3 linked regions of the Homo sapiens genome follow. The main gene of each other region encodes a partner of the protein of the gene in region 2 in a complex. Each region holds a gene or a part of one and is shown on either strand. Other genes may lie near its edges. A codon is read from its position in the direction of its gene.

Region 1 (7,644 bases), on a different chromosome or scaffold from region 2:
CAATATGAAAGTATACCAGGCATCTAGTAAGCATCTACAGACAGTCACTGCCAAGTGCTGAGAAACCATTTGAAAGTTTTGAGATACCCAAACAATGCTACTATTTGTATCAATCTCTGATCTCTCTTTCCTTAGTAGGACTGAGGTGAAAAAATGATTAAAAACAAGCTCTTTCTTTCATCACAAACTGAGGCATATCTGGTTTGATGGCAATATTTAAGTAAATTTCCAAGAGATCCCGTTAGCCAGTAGATAATACTAAAATAGAATGTTTAAACAGTAACTGAAACAAATTGACGATAATCAGATAGGAAACAGTAAAATACACAGTGGAGATCTCATAATTGAAGGCATACCTTTATTTCCTTTATACTGGGAAGTGGTGCATTTAGAAATTCCTCCGTTAATCTCTTCCAACTAGCAGCTTTGCTTAGATCAGAATGAATGACAAATTTTTCATAAATTCTAAAATATAAGAAAAGATTATAAAGCTATCTTAAAAAGATCTATAAGAAAATACATATATTTCTGGATGCGTATATATACACACTGACTTACCCTTCGATTGTTTTTTCTATTTTGTGGCTGTTGACATCCAAGAAACGATGAAATCTATTAAAGACAAAATGCAATTCTTATGCCAACTCTGTCACACAGGTAAGTGAACTCATCTCATGGCCCTCCATATCCCCCATATGCTCTGTACTCAGCTACACATTTCCAGAATGGAGTGTACCTTGTCCTCCGTTACCTCCACCATCAGGCAGGCAAATAATCACCGTGTCCGAGACTGTGCAAGCATCCTTTCTCCAGCACACAGGTTCTTCCTGACCCTCCCAACCTTGTCCTCTGGCTCCTCTGTCTTCCCATAAGCCCCTGTACCTAAGTCCAGCTGAACACATTCTACATCAGGTGGTCCCAACCTTTTTATGCCATAGTGAGGCCCGGTGAAGCCTAAGGACCCCTTCTCTGAATAACATTTTTAAAGCCAAAAAATAAATACAAAGGAATCCCATTATACTGAGATACAGTTGTCAAATATTTAAAGAAGTTTAAGATATGGCAAGAAATGTTATTTATGAAAGTATTAAATAACAAGATTTAGCAGTAGGTCCAATTAACTACCATTAAAGTAACAGTAAACAACATTTACAAATATCTACAACTCTGATGTGAAAACAGTATGCGATTTCTACTGGTGATAAAGTCATAGGTAGGCTAATACTGCTATGGTTTGCTGCCTTCATTCATAATAGAAGGAGATGCTACTTTTCAGTTAGAGAAAAGTGAGCTTGCTCAGTGCAAGCTCCGCCTCCTGGGTTCGCGCCATTCTCCTGCCTCAGCCTCCCAAGTAGCTGGGACTACAGGCGCCTGCCACCACGCCCGGCTAATTTTTTGTACTTTTAGTAGAGACCGGGTTTCACCGTGTTAGCCAGGATAGTCTCGATCTCCTGACCTCGTGATCCACCCACCTCGGCCTCCTAAAGTGCTGGGATTACAGGCGTGAGCCACCGCGCCCAGTCCACAATTTTCAAGAATGTAAACATGAACTATTCATTTTTCTGATGGTTTAAAGCATCATAAAATTACAGCACAGCCTATGCAACTAATGTATATGTACATAGCATAGCCTATGCAAAAAATGTTTTCCATTTTTTAGTATCAAAGCGAGCAATCTGTACTTAAATAAAATTACACTACTGAAAAACACATGATTCTAGGCCAGTAAATGGGTGAATGGAACACCACTTTACCTATTATAATTTAGTTCCTGAAATCTGTGAATGAAAATAGTAACCTCCAACGTCTCTCCCAGCTCTAAAATGATGACAATCTGCCTACTGTCATTTAGAAATATTAGTAGAAAAATAACTTGGATTTCAGCATTTAAGTTTCTGTATTGTATAACCTATTTCACACATTGTTTATTTTTATAAGTTACACTTAAGAATTCAGTTTATTACTTCAGAAACTTGGCATGGTTTAAAAGAATCTGAAAGCCCCGTATTCCTATTATAAGCCAACTAGACACTTTATGGCTATGATCATTAAGGTAACTAAGATTACGGATTTTGAAAAACTGTTCATTATTCAAGAAGATTTTTACTGAAATTAAACAGGTAGAATATTAACATTAACATTTTTTTAGTAATAATTTCATTATGGGTAATGACTCTAAAAGTATTAATTTACATCTCCCATAAAGAAAAATAGGAGATCTCACTTTACGTAAATATCTAAATTCTGTAAGTCTTTAAAAATTAGTTACAAGAGAAACTGCATTAGAAATTGTATTAGGTGACTCAGCGTGCTACGTGCCAGGAGCTGTGCAGAGATGCAGCATTCTAGCTGGAGTGGAAGTGGAGGAGACAGTAATGACAGGTTAAATCAGTGTCATGACACGCGTTTTGGAAAAAGGAGAGCAGGGTGAGAGATCTTACACTGGGCTGACCAGGGAGCAGGAGTCAGTGAGAATACAATCTCTTTAATTTAAAAAAAAAAAAAATTATAAACATGGAGTTGCTACGTTGCCCAAGCTGGCCTGGAGTCCCGCCTGGGCCTCCCAGAGCGCTGGGGTTGCAGGCGCGCGCGCCGGCCGGCAAGAAACCCAGTTCACGCTTTCCCCGTGACGATCAGGACGCGTCCCGGGTAACACGCCCTGTGGTGCGCAGGGCACCGCGCCGAGAGCGCTGGCCGGCGGGGAGCAGGCGGTGGCAGGGCCTGCGAAGGCTCCCTGAGGCCGCGCCCGCCTCCGCCCCATGCCCTGCCCCAGCGCGCCCCGACCCCGGGCTGTGCGGGACCCACGCGCGGGCTCCGGGCTGTGGCCGGGAACCCGCCCGCGCGCCGTGCCCCACACCTGAAGTTGGACCAGGCGAAGTTTAGGGCGAGCTGGAAGTTGGGGTCTGCCTCGTCCTGGAGGCCGGCGACACCCCGGACGAGCTCCCGCACGTCGCGCTCCTGCTGCGCGTCCAACCGACTCCACGGTGGCCCGTGCCGCGCCATGTTCCGCGCTCCTGCAGCGCGCGTCTAACGAATTGGTGCCTGTCGCGCGAGAGCTCGGGCTCCTGCCGCAGTCGCCTCCGGAGCTGGCGGCATTCTCGCGAGAGTTCGCGCTCCCGCGCCGGGCGACTTCCAAGCCGACCGCTATTCTCGCGACAGTTCGAGCTCCGGCTGTGGAGGGTACTGCCTGGCGCTGTCCCGTGGTGGGGACTGGAGTGCGCATTTTCTGGTTGCCCGACGGTACGTTTTCTACTGTACTCAGAGTTAGCTGGTGTCATCGTGAATCAGATACATAAGGGTCTCTGGCCGGCCTCGGTGACAGTCAGTGATTTTGAGAGCAGCCCGTTAGGTGCCCGGTCAGCAAATGCATTGGGACCCGCCTTTCCAGGAACCCTGAACTGCTTACCTGCTGAACCCTCCCGGCCCTGCAGCTTCTCCCTCCAGTGATGGTCTCTGCGGATTTCCGTGCCCCATCCACACAACACAGTCACGCTACACACATCCATGCTACACAACCAGCATCAGCGAAGCAGCTGTCCCGACCCGCTAGTAGTGCCTGCTGGCCCTTGCCTCGCCTGTTCCTCAGGGGCGGCTTGGGGGACTTCATGACCCCACCTGGCCAGAGGTGCTGAGGGGGGGAACTTCATAAATGTCACCTGGCCAGAGGTGGTGGGGGAGATTTCATAACCCCACCTAGCCAGAGGTGCTGGGGGGACTTCATAACCACACCTAGCCAGAGGTGCCGGGAGGACTTCATAACCACACCTGGACAGAGGTGCTGGGGGGACATCATAACCTCACCTGCTCAGAGGTGCTAGGGGGTATCATAATCCCACCTGGCCAGAGGTGCTGTGGGGCCATCATAACCCAACCTGGCCAGAGGTGCTGGGGGGACATCTTAACCTCACCTGGCCAGAGGTGCTAGGGGGATATCATAATCCCACCTGGCCAGAGATTCTGGGGGGACATCATAACCCCAGCTGGCCGGAGGTGCCGGGGGGCGGGGGGAACTTCATAACCCCACCTGGCCAGAGGTGCTGGGGGGACATCATAACCTCACCTGGCCAGAGGTGCTAGGGGGTATCATAATCCCACCTGGCCAGAGATGCTGGGGGGCCATCATAACCCCACCTGGCCAGAGGTGCTGTGGGGCCATCATAACCCCACCTGGCCGGAGGTGCTGGGGGGCGGGGGGAACTTCGTAACCCCACCTGGCCAGAGGTGCTGGGGGTGACTTCATAAATGTCACCTGGCCAGAGGTGCTGGGGGGGATTTCATAACCCCACCTGACCAGGGGTGCTGGGGGGACATCATAACCTCACCTGGCCAGAGGTGCTGGGGGGTATCATAATCTGACCTGGCCAGAGATGCTGGGGGGACATCATAACCCCACCTGGCCAGAGGTGTTGTGGGGCCATCATAACCCCAGCTGGCCGGAGGTGCTGGGGGGCGGGGGGAACTTCTTAACCCCACCTGGCCAGAGGTGCTGGGGGTGACTTCATAAATGTCACCTGGCCAGAGGTGCTGGGGGGGATTTCATAACCCCACCTGGCCAGAGGTGCTGGGGGGACATCATAACCTCACCTGGCCAGAGGTGCTGGGGGGTATCATAATCCCACCTGGCCAGAGATGCTGGGGGGACATCATAACCCCACTTGGCCAGAGGTGCTGTGGGGCCATCATAACCCCAGCTGGCCGGAGGTGCTGGGGAGCGGGGGGAACTTCATAACCCCACCCGGCCAGAGGTGCTGGGGGTGACTTCATAAATGTCACCTGGCCAGAGGTGCTGGGGGGATTTCATAACCCAACCTGGCCAGAGGTGCTGGGGGGACATCTTAACCTCACCTGGCCAGAGGTGCTAGGGGGATATCATAATCCCACCTGGCCAGAGATGCTGGGGGGACATCATAACCCCACCTGGCCGGAGGTGCTGGGGGGCGGGGGGAACTTCATAACCCCACCTGGCCAGAGGTGCTGGTGGTGACTTCATAAATGTCACCTGGCCAGAGGTGCTGGGGGGGATTTCATAACCACAGCTGGCCATAGGTGCTGGGGGAGATTTCATAACCCCACCTGGCCAGAGGTGCTGGGGGGACTTCATAACCACACCTGGCCAGAGGTGCCAGGAGGACTTCATAACCACACCTGGCCAGAGGTGCTGGGGGGACATCATAACCTCACCTGGCCAGAGGTGCTGTGGGGGGGTATTATAACCCCACCTGGCCAGAGGTGCTGGGGGGTATCATAATCCTACCTCGACAGAGGTGCTGTGGGGCCATCATAACCCCAGCTGGCAGGAGGTCCTGGTGGGCCATCATAACCCCACCTGGCCAGAGGTGCTGGGCGGCGGGGGGAACTTCTTAACCCCACCTGGCCAGAGGTGCTGGGGGTGACTTCAAAATGTCACCTGGCGAGAGGTGCTGGGGGGGATTTCATAACCCCACCTGGCCAGAGGTGCCGGGGGGACTTCATAACCCCACCTGGCCAGAGGTGCCGGGAGGACTTCATAACCACACCTGGCCAGAGGTGCCGGGGGGGCATCATAACCACACCTGGCCAGAGGTGCCGGTGGGACTTCATAACCCCACCTGGCCAGAGGTGCCGGGGGGACTTCATAACCACACCTGGCCAGAGGTACCGGGGGGACATCATAACCACACCTGGCCAGAGGTGCCGGGGGGACATCATAACCTCACCTGGCCAGAGGTGCTGGGGGTGGGTATTATATCCCCACCTGGCCAGAGGTGCTGGGGGGGACGTCATAACCACACTTGGCCAGAGGTGCCGGTGGGACTTCATAACCCCACCTGGCCAGAGGTGCTGGGGGACATCATAACCCCACCTGGCCAGAGGTGCCAGGGGGGACATCATAACCCCACCTGGCCAGAGGTGCTGGGGGACATCATAATCCCACCTGGCCAGAGGTGCTCTGGGGCCATCATAACCCCACTTGGCCGGAGGTGCTGGGGGGCGGGGGGAACTTCATAACCCCACCTGGCCAGAGGTGCTGGGGGTGACTTCATAACTGTCACCTGGCCAGAGGTGCTGGGGGGGATTTCATAACCCCACCTGGCCAGAGGTGCTGCGGGGGACTTCATAACCACACCTGGCCAGAGGTGCCGGGAGGACTTCATAACCCCACCTGGCCAGAGGTGCTGGGGGACATCATAACCTCACCTGGCCAGAGGTGCTGGGGGGTATCATAATCCCACCTGGCCAGAGATGCTGGGGGGACATCATAACCCCACCTGGCCAGAGGTGCTGTGGGGCCATCATAACCCCAGCTGGCCGGAGGTGCTGGGGGCAGGGGGAATTTCATAACCCTACCCGGACAGAGGTGCTAGGGGTGACTTCATAAATGTCACCTGGCCAGAGGTGCTGGAGGGGATTTCATAACCCCACCTGGCCAGAGGTGCTGGGGGGGACTTCATAACCCCACCTGGCCAGAGGTCCTGGGGGACTTCATAACCCCACCTGGCCAGAGGTGCTGGGGGGACATCATAACTTCACCTGGCCAGAGGTGCTGGGGGGTATCATAATCCCACCTGGCCAGAGATGCTGGGGGGACATCATAACCCCACCTGCCAGAGGTGCTGGGGGGCGGGGGGAACTTCATAACCCCACCTGGCCAGAGGTGCTGGGGGTGACTTCATAAATGTCACCTGGCCAGAGGTGCTGGGGGGATTTCATAACCCAACCTGGCCAGAGGTGCTGGGGGGACATCATAACCTCACCTGGCCAGAGGTGCTAGGGGGATATCATAATCCCACCTGGCCAGAGATGCTGGGGGGACATCATAACCCCACCTGGCCGGAGGTGCTGGGGGGCGGGGGGAACTTCCTAACCCTACCTGGCCGGAGGTGCTGGGGGTGACTTCATAAATGTCACCAGGCCAGAGGTGCTGGGGGGGATTTCATAACCACAGCTGGCCAGAGGTGCTGGGGGAGATTTCATAACCCCACCTGGCCAGAGGTGCTAGTGGGACTTCATAATCACACCTGGCCAGAGGTGCCAGGAGGACTTCATAACCACACCTGGCCAGAGGTGCTGGGGGGACATCATAACCTCACCTGGCCAGAGGTGCTGTGGGGGGGTATTATAACCCCACCTGGCCAGAGGTGCTGGGGGGGTCATAATCCCACTTGGCCAGAGGTGCTGTGGGGCCATCATAACCCCAGCTGGCCGGAGGTGCCGGGGGGCGGGGGGAACTTCATAACCCCACCTGGCCAGAGTTGCTGGGGGTGACTTCATAAATGTCACCTGGCCAGAGGTGCTGCGGGGGATTTCATAACCCCACCTGGCCAGAGGTGCTGGGGGGACATCATAACCTCACCTGGCCAGAGGTGCTAGGGGATATCATAATCACACCTGGCCAGAGATGCTGGGGGGCCATCATAACCCCACCTGGCCAGCGGTGCTGTGGGGCCATCATAACCCCACCTGGCCAGAGGTGCTGGGGGTGACTTCATAAATGTCACCTGGCCAGAGGTGCTGGGGGGGATTTCATAACCCCACCTGGCCAGGGGTGCTGGGGGGACATCATAACCTCACCTGGCCAGAGGTGCTGGGGGGTCATCATAACCCCACCTGGCCAGAGGTGCTGTGGGGCCATCATAACCCCAGCTGGCCGGAAGTGCTGGGGGC
Region 2 (7,031 bases):
CGCAATCTCAGCTCACGACAACCTTCGCCTCCCAGGTTCAAGCGATTCTCCTGCCTCAGCCTCCCAAGTAGCTGGGATTACAGGCACCCGTACTTACTACTAAATATATATATATATATACATATATATATATATATATATACACATATATATATGTAAAGTGGTGCTACAGGCCGGGCACAGTGGCTCACGCCTATAATCCCAGCACTTTGGGAGGCTGAGGCGGGTGGATCACCTGAGGTCAGGAGTTCCAGACCAGACTGGCCAACATGGTGAAACCCTGTCTCTACTAAAAATACAAAAATTAGCTGGGCGTGGTGGCGGGCGCCTATAATCCTAGTTACTCCAGAGGCCAAGGCAGGAGAATTGGTTCCCATCCCCAGCTTCAACCTGGGAGGCGGAGGTTGCAGTGAGCCAAGGTCGCGCCACTGCACTCCAGCCAGACTCGGTCTCAAAAAAAAAAAAAAAATAGTGCTATGATAAAGCCTCTCATAAGGAATAATTATCAAAATTAAAATTCAGATGCACAGGACGATTTTAGAGGAAAATAAAAATTAAGGTATAAAAAGCAATCAATAGAGAGTACCTAACATACCAAAAAGTTGAAAAGCAAAAGAGGCAACCATACACAGTGGGTTGCGAGGGGGGTGTTGTTGAAAAGGCACGACTATTTTAAGCGTGTAGAATTTTAGGGATATAAGGATGAAAGCAGAGATCTCATGCAGACCTTATTCTAAATTGGCAGAGATAGTTCTTTTCAGAGTGAGGTGCACAGATAATTTATTAATAGAAAGTTAGCCTGCTTCCTTCCATGTCTTTAACAAAATCCTTTCATTTCATGATCAAAATGCAAATGTAGCCAAGAGTTCTGCAATTCACATGACTTAAAGGGAGGTTCACAAATGCTACCATTGAGGGGAGAAATGGTATTCAAAAAGTTTTGAAAATTTTATTTTTGATCTCACGGGTTGATTTAAATACTGTGTAACACCACATCCCCTCTCCTTCATTTTTTGTTTTACTTCACTTTTTTGTGTTCTTACTCTCTTTATAATCTTCATTTCACACCAAGTTTTCTCAGAAGAGATCTTGATGATGCAGCCAACACAAACCATCAGTTCTCAATTGTACATCAGTGATTCCACCAGAGAAAATGTGAGTTTTCTGTTCAAATGGGATCCTGTGGCCATATACATAAGGAACCTAAGTACAGCTAACCTAAGAAAATAGGCTAGAAGTGAGGTCTTATACTCTACCTTTTTCCAAGGAAATATACAAGACAGTAAATTTATATTTATATACACACACATATATATATTCATACATAAATCCACTTACAAAATAAAACTATTAAGTGTTGATACATCGAAAAGGATAGAAAAATAAGCTGAATATTAAGAGTAACATTCTCAGAAAAACAGCAAGGTAGATACTGAACAAGTGAAAAATTAGATGCAAAGGCTCTAAAAGTGTAATTCTTTGAAAAGAAAACCAGGACCAGTGCAGAAAAAGCCAGCAGCCCCTCTGCAAGTGCTACATAAGAAAATGAGGCCGGGCATGGTGGCTCACGCCTGTAATCCTAGCATTTTGGGAGGCCGAGGCATGTGGATCACCTGAAGTCAGGAGTTCGAGACCAACCTGGCCAACATGGGGAAACTCCGTCTCTACTAAAAATACAAAAAATTAGCCGGGTGTTCTGGCGGGCACCTGTAATCCCAGCTACTCCAGAGGCTGAGGCAGGAGAATCGCCTGAACCCGGGAGGCGGAGGTTGCAGTGAGCCGAGGTTGCGCCATTGCACTCCACCCTGGGCAACTACAGCAAGACTGTGTCTCAAAAAAGAAAAAAAGAGCCTACGGTGAAGGAGAGAGAGATACAGCAGTGAGAATTTCATAGGGTTATCTTTTAACAGAGACGGAAGCTGACGTGAGTAGACCCTGGAAAACGTCTAGGCCCACTGCAAATAACAACATCGATCAAACACTCATAATACAGGTGGATGTGAGTAAAAAGGAGACAAAGAAAGAAGACTACAAGAGAGAGGCCATCTGAAATAATATAAAAATAATTGATCATCTTTGATATGTTTTTACATGGTTGTCTTATTTAAATATTCACAACTCCTGGAGGTAGGGTTTTATTTTACAGAAAAAAAAAAAAAAAAAACTAAACAGGCTCAATGATGTTTAAGTATCTAGTCCAAGCTCACCACAGGGGCATAAAGTGGCAGAACCGACATTAGAGGGTAGACAGAGGGTAACCGCAAGACACAAATTTCGTGTTCTGCAACACTTGTGTAGGCTTCACACACACGTGCCTCCGGGGCCGAAAACAGGCGACACCATAGCACTTGGGCACTGGTGTCACCCGCTTCAAGAGGAAACTAGGATAATTATGACCAAAGGGGAACTTGTTCATTCGCCGGATATTAAAGGTGCCTACTTAAGTGCGAAGAACAGGAGGCATAGCGGTGACCAAACACCTGGCCCCTGTCCCCGCCGGGATCCCAACCTTGGGGACCCCCGAAGCGCCCCGGGCGGGAATCGGGTGGGACGCGGCACGCAGGAGGGAACGGGTGTACTGGGTGGGGTGGGCGTGACGCTGTCACCGCAGGAGATCGGGCGGGTAGGGCGGACCTGGGATGCGGGATAGAGGGGGCGCGGCATTCGCGCGAGAGGGACGCGGTGCGCAACCGGCTGACTAGGGGCCGCAACGCCTAGCGCGCGCGACAAACTACGCAGCGGCGGAGACAACTCTCAAGGGATAGGGCCATCAGCCCTGCGGCCCTGGCAGGTCCCTACCAAAGATCTTGGAAGATGCCGTTTGGGGCACTAAGGGGACCTGAAGTCCTCCCCAGGCTCATTCCCGCCTGGGGGCCTTGGCTCTGGGAAGGCACGCAAGGTAAAGGGAGCGCAACGGAAACTCACCGTCCATGGTCTCCCGCACCGCATTCAGATTCGCCGCCGCGGCCGCCGCCGCCGCCCCAGCACCGCTGCTACTCGCCATGGCTAAGGCCGAGGGAGGCGGGAGAAGGGCCTGACCCGGAACTGGAGCGCCTTCCTCTCTCCGAGGCAATCACACAGCGCGTCTCGGCCCACGCCGGGCAGGCTCCGCCCCTCGCGCTCGCCGCCGGCGTGAGGCTGCGTTGATTTGAATTTGGAGCCACGTTCCTCTGCGCGGAACGTGGAGCGAGGAGTTGCCATTCGAATTTCCTACGCGGCCTCCGTGCGATTGGCTGGTTCGCGGATGGCGGGACGACACGATTGGCTAGTCGCTCACAAGCCCCGTGCCCTGGTTGGCCCAAGACAGCGCGGAAGCGGGGAGTTAAAGAGTCTATGCCTGTCGTGGAAGCTGGCCTGGCCCCCGGAGCTCCCTGGAGTCGGTACTGGGGGCTTCGTTTTGTACGCACCGGTAGGTACGCTCTTTGTGGTCCCTGGCCTTTCCTCCTGTCTGAATGGAGAGGTTTCTTTTCCCAGCTCCTGACTTGCCTGCCCGCTCGCCCCTGGTGAATGGGAGCAGTCAGGGAGTAGGTGTGGAAGAGAGGGGCACCAGAAAGAGTGGCCACGTAGGGTTGGGGGCGACGCCTCCTTCGCACTCCATCCAGGGAAGCCGGCTGCATCTCAACCTTCCAGAAGTAGACTCTTTTCCACCCCACCCCGCCAAGGTGTAGCCTCTGTAGCCTCCTTTGATTGCAAGTAATGCAGTCTCCCTTTCTATCCCGGGAGGGGTGGAGGGGAGGTCTTGGCGAAAGGAGGATTTTTGGAGGAAAGGGGACCCCAGGCAGTTAATTTCCTAGCCCCTGTCAATCATACTTCTCTGGCTAGGACTCATGTGCAAGAAAGGCACAAGCTTCCTCATCTCTTACCTGCTTGCTACAAAGAATTGTTTAATAGCAACTGTAGTTGGATAGGGTATCCGAAGAATGTTCATAGTGTTGAGACATGAGATGATGAATTTAAAAAAAATTGTAGCTATAAGTCCTTTAGTTGAGAAGAGATCTGGGCCTGTTGTAACCTTTAGTTTCCTCAGAGGCAGATCTGAATTCATTCATATTTGATTGCTGCGTATAAGCCACTTCACTTCTCTGAGCTTAATACTTTCGCAAAATAATATCACTAGTAAGTTACTGCTATAGCTTTCAAGGTTGTTTCGAGGATCAGTTGAGAACATTTATATGTGATACTTTTTTTGTAAGCTGTATCATAGCCCCAAGAGTGTGAGGTTTTGAGTTGTTTTTTGTGACACATTTGTCGAGTACATTTTAATAGTTAAAATTAATATCTATGGGACTTTGTAATTTTAACATGCATACTCTTGATTTCTTTTTAGTTTTCTCTCTGTGCTATGGGAGATGTCAAGGAATCAAAGATGCAAATAACACCAGAAACTCCAGGAAGGATCCCTGTTTTAAATCCTTTTGAAAGTCCTAGTGATTATTCTAATCTCCATGAACAAACTCTCGCCAGTCCTTCTGTTTTTAAATCAACAAAATTACCAGTAAGTTATTCCTGACTAGTGTTTACAACTAATTTTAAATGTAAGTAATTACAAATAATTTTAAATGTAAACATCTGTCTTTACAAGGTAAGGAGGAAATACATTATGGAGCATATATAGCTGCAATATACTTTTTTAAATTGTAGTGTTCATTATAATCTAGTGGTTAGGTTAATAAGTTAGCTAGAAGATTTTTTTTTTTTTAAGTTCAAGAACATACGTTAGCTTCCTGCAGTTGTGGGTGTAGCTACATTCTGTGGTTGACGATATAGCTACTAATACATTAGAGAAGAAGCTGCATCATCTAATATTCTGTTCTCACTTATTTGGCAAACATTATTTGAGTGTTGCTATGTGTCAGATACAGTGCTAAGCAGGGATTACACTGTGAACAAGTTAGGATCATTAGGCACAAATCCTTAAGGAGGTTATACTCCGATGTATGGGTCACAAACTTTCTGTTAGGGGCCAGACAGTAAATATTTAAGCTTTACAGGTCATTTGGTCTCTGTCACAACTACTCACTTCTGTCTTGTATCACAAAAGCAGCCATAGGCAATGTGTAAAGAGATAAATGTTACTCTGTTCCAATACAGCTTTATTTATGGACACATTTGAATTTCATATAATTTTCACATGTCACAAGATATTTTTTTGTTTGTTTTCCCAACCATTTGAAACTGTCAAAATAATTCTTAGCTTGCAATCTATTATAAAAAGAAACTAACCCCTATTTTAATGTGTTAAACAGAACTAGATGAGTAATATCAAGGCAGTGTGATAGGTGATATGATTAGTACTTAGGACAATAGTAATATGAAGGAAAAGTGTTCTTCAGGATATTAGAAAAGGCTTCATCACTTTATCTTTTTTTTTTTTTTGGTAGAGATGGGATTTCACCATGTTGGCCAGGCTGATCTCGAACTCCTGACCTCATGTGATGCACCCACTTCAGCCTCCCAAAGTGCTGGGATTACAGGCATGAGCCACCATGCCCGGGCCACTTTATCTTATTTTACTGTTATTTGCTACACTGGATAAGTTCTTTTGACCTTGGATCTTTCAACCTACCAAGTTACTTAGAAAAACTGCAAATAGGGTGGCTGTTTCTGCTACACTTTCATACAGGTTTTACAATGAGCAAGTATGTACTAGTGGAAGGTCGAGCAGTTTATATTGAGTCATTTCATCAATCTGACCTTATGATTTTTAATTGAATCATTAAAATTTATCTCTTGGTCTTACTAAAAATAAATAATAGATTGACGGCAGCTTAATCCTCAAAGTTGGAATGTATGGCATCTTGCGTTTTTAGGACTGAATTTGCCTAGAATATATTTCTAATTACAGATTAGGATTTGGATAAACCTTTAATTCAGTTGCATGGTTGAGTACAGAAAGGCAGCACTGGTTGCCATTCATAATTATTTTAAGGATCAACTATGTTGTGAGCTTTTGCAGCCACCTCCAAAGTGACTAAGGACTTTAATTTCAGTTCCTTCTTAGTGAAAGTAAAGACGTTTGTTAACTGTGAGAGATTTTTACTTTTACATGGGCTTAGTTTATCACACTGATGAGTGTTAATTGTGAAAGTTTTATATCTTTATTACTCTGTTGTGATTTTTCTCGTATTACGTAATTCCAACCCAGGTGAAAGATTCTGATATTTTAAAAGAGATACAGGCTGGGCGCTGTGGCTCATGCCTGTAATCCCAGCACTGCCAAGGTGGGCTGATGACTTGAAGTCAGGAGTTTGAGACCAGCCTGGCCAACATGGTGAAACCCCATCTCTACTAAAAAAAAAAAAAAAAAAAAAATACAAAAATTAGCTGGGTGTGGTGGCGGGTGCCTGTAATCCCAGCTACTCAGGAGGCTGAGGCAGGAGAATCGCTTGAACCGGGGAGGTGGAGGTTGCAGTGAGCTGAGATTACACCAGTGCACTCCAGCCTCGGTGACAGAACGAGACTCTGTCTTAAACAAAGAGAGAGAGAGATACAATTAAGTCAGTTGATCGAATGTGATATGATTACCCTTTGCCATTTAATTTCATGGTAAAGTCAAATTTTAAAATACAAGCTTTAAAATATTTTCATATTATAACCATTCATATTATTTCTCACATAGGTTAGCATTTTGATGAACTATTTTAGTTTGCCTTTACTCATAAGCTCACTTTCTTTTGTTAAGACTCCAGGGAAATTTAGATGGTCTATTGATCAACTAGCTGTAATAAATCCTGTAGAAATAGACCCAGAAGATATTCATCGTCAAGCTTTATACTTAAGTCATTCTCGGTAAGTTTTCCTTTCTTGCACCTAAGTCTAATAACACTCTCAAGTGAAGAGAGGTAGGAAATTCTAAATGTTGAGTATTTTTCTATGTAAAGGTATCAGGGAGAAAAAATTTTGATGCAGATTTTTTCTATCTAAATGAATGAGTTCAAAGAACTACATTCAGAAAGATTTTCTTGCCAACAGTTCCAGACCTGAGTAGATACCTTTTTCTTTTACAAGTAACCTTTTCCCTCTGCTACTGA
Region 3 (2,678 bases), about 40 Mb from region 2:
TTTGGCAATATAACTTCTTAGGCGTGTTCTTCTTCCCTCACCTAAAAAGGCAGTGATACACACACACACACACACAGACACACACACACACACACACACACACACATACACAGTGTTTGCCTGCTCAGAGGTGAAGTTACTTTATCAACACAGCAGAGCCTGTGCCCAGGCCTGCCTGTGAGCTTCAGCATTCGTGTTTCTGACCAGAAGCTGGGAAGGGGCAGTGACAGCTGGTGAAGACTTGGGCGGGGCTTGGTGAGGACGCAGTGCCTCAGTGAGTTTTCTCTGCAGATGAGGCCTTTCCAGGCCAGCAGTTCTGTGAACAGATCAGCACCCCGTGGCATGCAGCAGGCTCCAGCACTGGGCGGGGATGGGCCTGTACTCAGTATGCAAGTCTTTCAGCCTGAAATAGAAGCAGCCAGTCCTTTCGTCTTATCAGAGTTAGGGGAAACTTCTGTCACATCTTTAAAAACGCCCTCAGTAACAGGATGATGGCGATGCCAGTGCCCATGAAGAGGGCGGCTGCAGCCTCACGTCCAGCAGCTAGACCCAAAGACCCGACTGATGCTCTCAATTTGTTCTCCAGCAAGGGCTCTAGGATGAAATCCTCTTTCATGAGTCATATGAAAGATGAAATATGTGGCACTGAGTTTTGTATTCAAAATAGAATGTTCTAACATCTGTTACTTTGCTGTTTTGCTTATTCTTGTGGAACTTAAGAACAAAGTGAAAAAACCTGTTGGTTAGTTGTTTTCAAATCAAATGTATTCTTCACTAATTTGTCCTTGTAAAAGGGCGCCCATTCCTAATGCAGGTGCACTGGCCGTGTGCACTCCAGGGTCCCAGCAGCTCTTGCTCCCTGGACACCTGCCCTGGTGGGCATTTACTAAGGGCCTGTTGATCTGGAAGGAAAAACAGACCCAACCCAAAGGAGATTAAGGTCCGGGGAATACGTTTGTGGGTTGTTCTTTTCTGAAACAATATTTTACTCCTTTTGCTTCTTTTTAGGGTATCGTGCAGCAGTTTTTGGTGTTACTGACGACCAGCTCTGACGAGAGTCTTCGGTTTCTTAGCTTCAGGCTGGACTTCAACGAGCATTACAAAGCCAGGGAGCCCAGGCTCCGTGTGTCTCTGGGTACCAGGGGGCGGCGCAGCTCCCACACGTGAAGCTCGCGGTCCTCCCAGGGAGCTGCGGGTGATGTTCGTTGCACTGCTAGACACGAAATTCCCATTGACGTCCTGCAGGAACTGCATGCTGCAGGTGTCCTGCCCTTCCGCCCACGAGTGCGCCATGTTTCAGCGGAGCGGCGTGTGGGAGAAGCCACGTCGTGTTTCACATGTCGGAGTCGAATGCATTTGTAAATCCCTAAGTCAAGTAGGCTGGCTGCACTGTTCACATTTGTCTCTAAAAGTCTTCATCGCTAAAAGATACCATAATTTGCTGAGGCTTCTTAAGCTTTCTATGTTATAATTTATATTTGTCACTTTAAAAAATCCATTTCTTTTAGAAAAAATTAGGGTGATAGGATATTCATTAGTTAAGATGGTAACGTCATTGCTATTTTTTTAACATCCTCTTTAGAGGTAATTTTTGTTAACATAACCAAAAATTAAATTGAAACAAAATGTCCCAACTAAGAAAATATATAGAGCATTTTATTTTTTTTTAGTGTTGTAAAATATTAACCTCTGTGAGATCCTTTGTATCTTAATGCATTACCTTTACACATATTTATTCTTATTTTCTCTCCTTTCAGAGTTTACATTTTTATATTTAATTTACTATTTCAGATTTTTAAAATAGTATAGAAAAAAGTAGGAGTGATAGAGAACAAAAATACTCTTATACAGTGCAACCCAAATACCGCGAATGCATCAGCTAAAGCAGCGTGTAAATAGGAGTGACGAGAAAGTTAATGGAGTATTTTATTTTCAAAGTTCCTGATAAGCATTGGAAAGAAATCGACATGGATAATGAAGATTTCCTTTTTCCTTGCCTATTTTTTCATTGTAAATATTTATATACTACTGACCAAGATGTTGGGGTGGGGGGGATTGTTTTTTGTAAAAATGTCATTATCAGGTCACATAAATCTGCCTTTATGTTGCATAAGTGAAAATTTAGAAAATTAAAAGCAATTATCTTTCAGATGCATTCGTTATTTCTTGAGTAGTTTATGAAGGGACAGTTTACTTGCTGGATTTGGGGGTTGAGGGTTGGTAGAATTTGATTTAATATAGTACAGCATATGAATTATTTAATCAGTGAAACCAGGAAAGTAGACTTTGTGTGACTTTTGGTATAGAAGCAAAGGCAATGTCACCGCTCAGGTCTCAGGAGCGGTGCTTTAGTTATCTGAATCCACCTCTGACTCCTTTAGGTGTGGATTACCTTTAAAACTAAAGGGGCTGTCAGGAATCCTGGCCATGCAGAAATGAATTCATGGCAAAGGCCAGAAATTCAATGTAATTTTAGTTTTGAAGTTCATAAAATCAGAAATTTGAAACAGGTTTTTCTACTGCAAGGTTTTTTAGAAATTATTGCATATTGTTTATCTCCACGAGAGGTTTACCAAGGTAATTGACCATGCAGCCAGCTTTTATTTTATTTTATTCAGAGAGTTGTTCCAGGGATTAATCCTCAGTAGAAACCACCCTAGCAAAGGCCCACCTCGATT

Evidence for each region. The genes of interacting proteins can lie anywhere in the genome.
Region 1: the proteins of MZT1 (region 2) and TUBGCP5 are in contact, whole or in part, in a crystal structure (PDB 6L81), measured with the Homo sapiens proteins. Residues at the interface, in NP_001065243.1 of Homo sapiens: Glu23 (codon at 2,938), Val27, Leu28, Glu30, Ile31, Ser32, Ile34, Leu35, Asn36, Thr37, Leu39, Leu44, Ile46, Cys47, Val48, Arg49, Leu50, Cys51, Glu52, Gln53, Ile55, Asn56, Pro57, Glu58, Ala59, Leu60, Ser61, Ser62, Val63, Ile64; in NP_443135.3 of Homo sapiens: Gln14 (codon at 2,964), Gln15 (codon at 2,961), Asp18 (codon at 2,952), Val19 (codon at 2,949), Glu21 (codon at 2,943), Leu22 (codon at 2,940), Val23 (codon at 2,937), Val26 (codon at 2,928), Ala27 (codon at 2,925), Gly28 (codon at 2,922), Asn36 (codon at 2,898), Ala40 (codon at 2,886), Phe43 (codon at 2,877), Ala44 (codon at 2,874), Asn47 (codon at 2,865), Phe48 (codon at 2,862), Arg52 (codon at 605), Phe53 (codon at 602), Leu54 (codon at 599), Phe72 (codon at 452), Lys80 (codon at 428), Ser83 (codon at 419), Trp84 (codon at 416), Leu87 (codon at 407), Thr88 (codon at 404), Glu90 (codon at 398), Phe91 (codon at 395), Ala106, Ser109, Ile110.
Region 3: the proteins of MZT1 (region 2) and TUBGCP3 are in contact, whole or in part, in a cryo-EM structure (PDB 7QJD), measured with the Homo sapiens proteins. Residues at the interface, in NP_001065243.1 of Homo sapiens: Asn17 (codon at 2,956), Ala20 (codon at 2,947), Val21 (codon at 2,944), Glu23 (codon at 2,938), Thr24 (codon at 2,935), Val27, Leu28, Glu30, Ile31, Ser32, Arg33, Ile34, Leu35, Asn36, Thr37, Leu39, Asp40, Glu42, Thr43, Ile46, Cys47, Val48, Arg49, Leu50, Cys51, Glu52, Gln53, Gly54, Ile55, Asn56; in NP_006313.1 of Homo sapiens: Lys7, Pro9, Leu12, Leu13, Asn15, Leu16, Cys17, Arg19, Ile20, Leu21, Arg23, Val28, Gln31, Tyr34, Ala35, Val38, Ile39, Asn42, Phe43, Ala44, Pro45, Thr46, Ile58, Leu62, Arg67, Asp70, Phe74, Leu77, Lys80, Leu81.

What each region holds. Positions count from the first base shown.
Region 1 is NC_000015.10:23,036,541-23,044,184, forward strand, and holds the start of TUBGCP5 (gamma-tubulin complex component 5), read right to left. Parts: upstream 3,030-7,644; 5' UTR 3,004-3,029; coding exon 2,858-3,003; intron 2,637-2,857; exon of another isoform or gene 2,442-2,636; intron 613-2,441; coding exon 559-612; intron 466-558; coding exon 357-465; intron 1-356. UniProt on the Homo sapiens protein: Component of the gamma-tubulin ring complex (gTuRC) which mediates microtubule nucleation.
Region 2 is NC_000013.11:72,724,599-72,731,629, forward strand, and holds the start of MZT1 (mitotic-spindle organizing protein 1), read right to left. Parts: upstream 3,032-7,031; 5' UTR 3,005-3,031; coding exon 2,926-3,004; intron 1-2,925. Other genes in the region: BORA (protein aurora borealis), read left to right, coding at 4,343-4,495, 6,683-6,789. UniProt on the Homo sapiens protein: Required for the recruitment and the assembly of the gamma-tubulin ring complex (gTuRC) at the centrosome.
Region 3 is NC_000013.11:112,484,482-112,487,159, reverse strand, and holds the end of TUBGCP3 (gamma-tubulin complex component 3), read left to right. Parts: intron 1-1,008; coding exon 1,009-1,167; 3' UTR 1,168-2,149; downstream 2,150-2,678. UniProt on the Homo sapiens protein: Component of the gamma-tubulin ring complex (gTuRC) which mediates microtubule nucleation.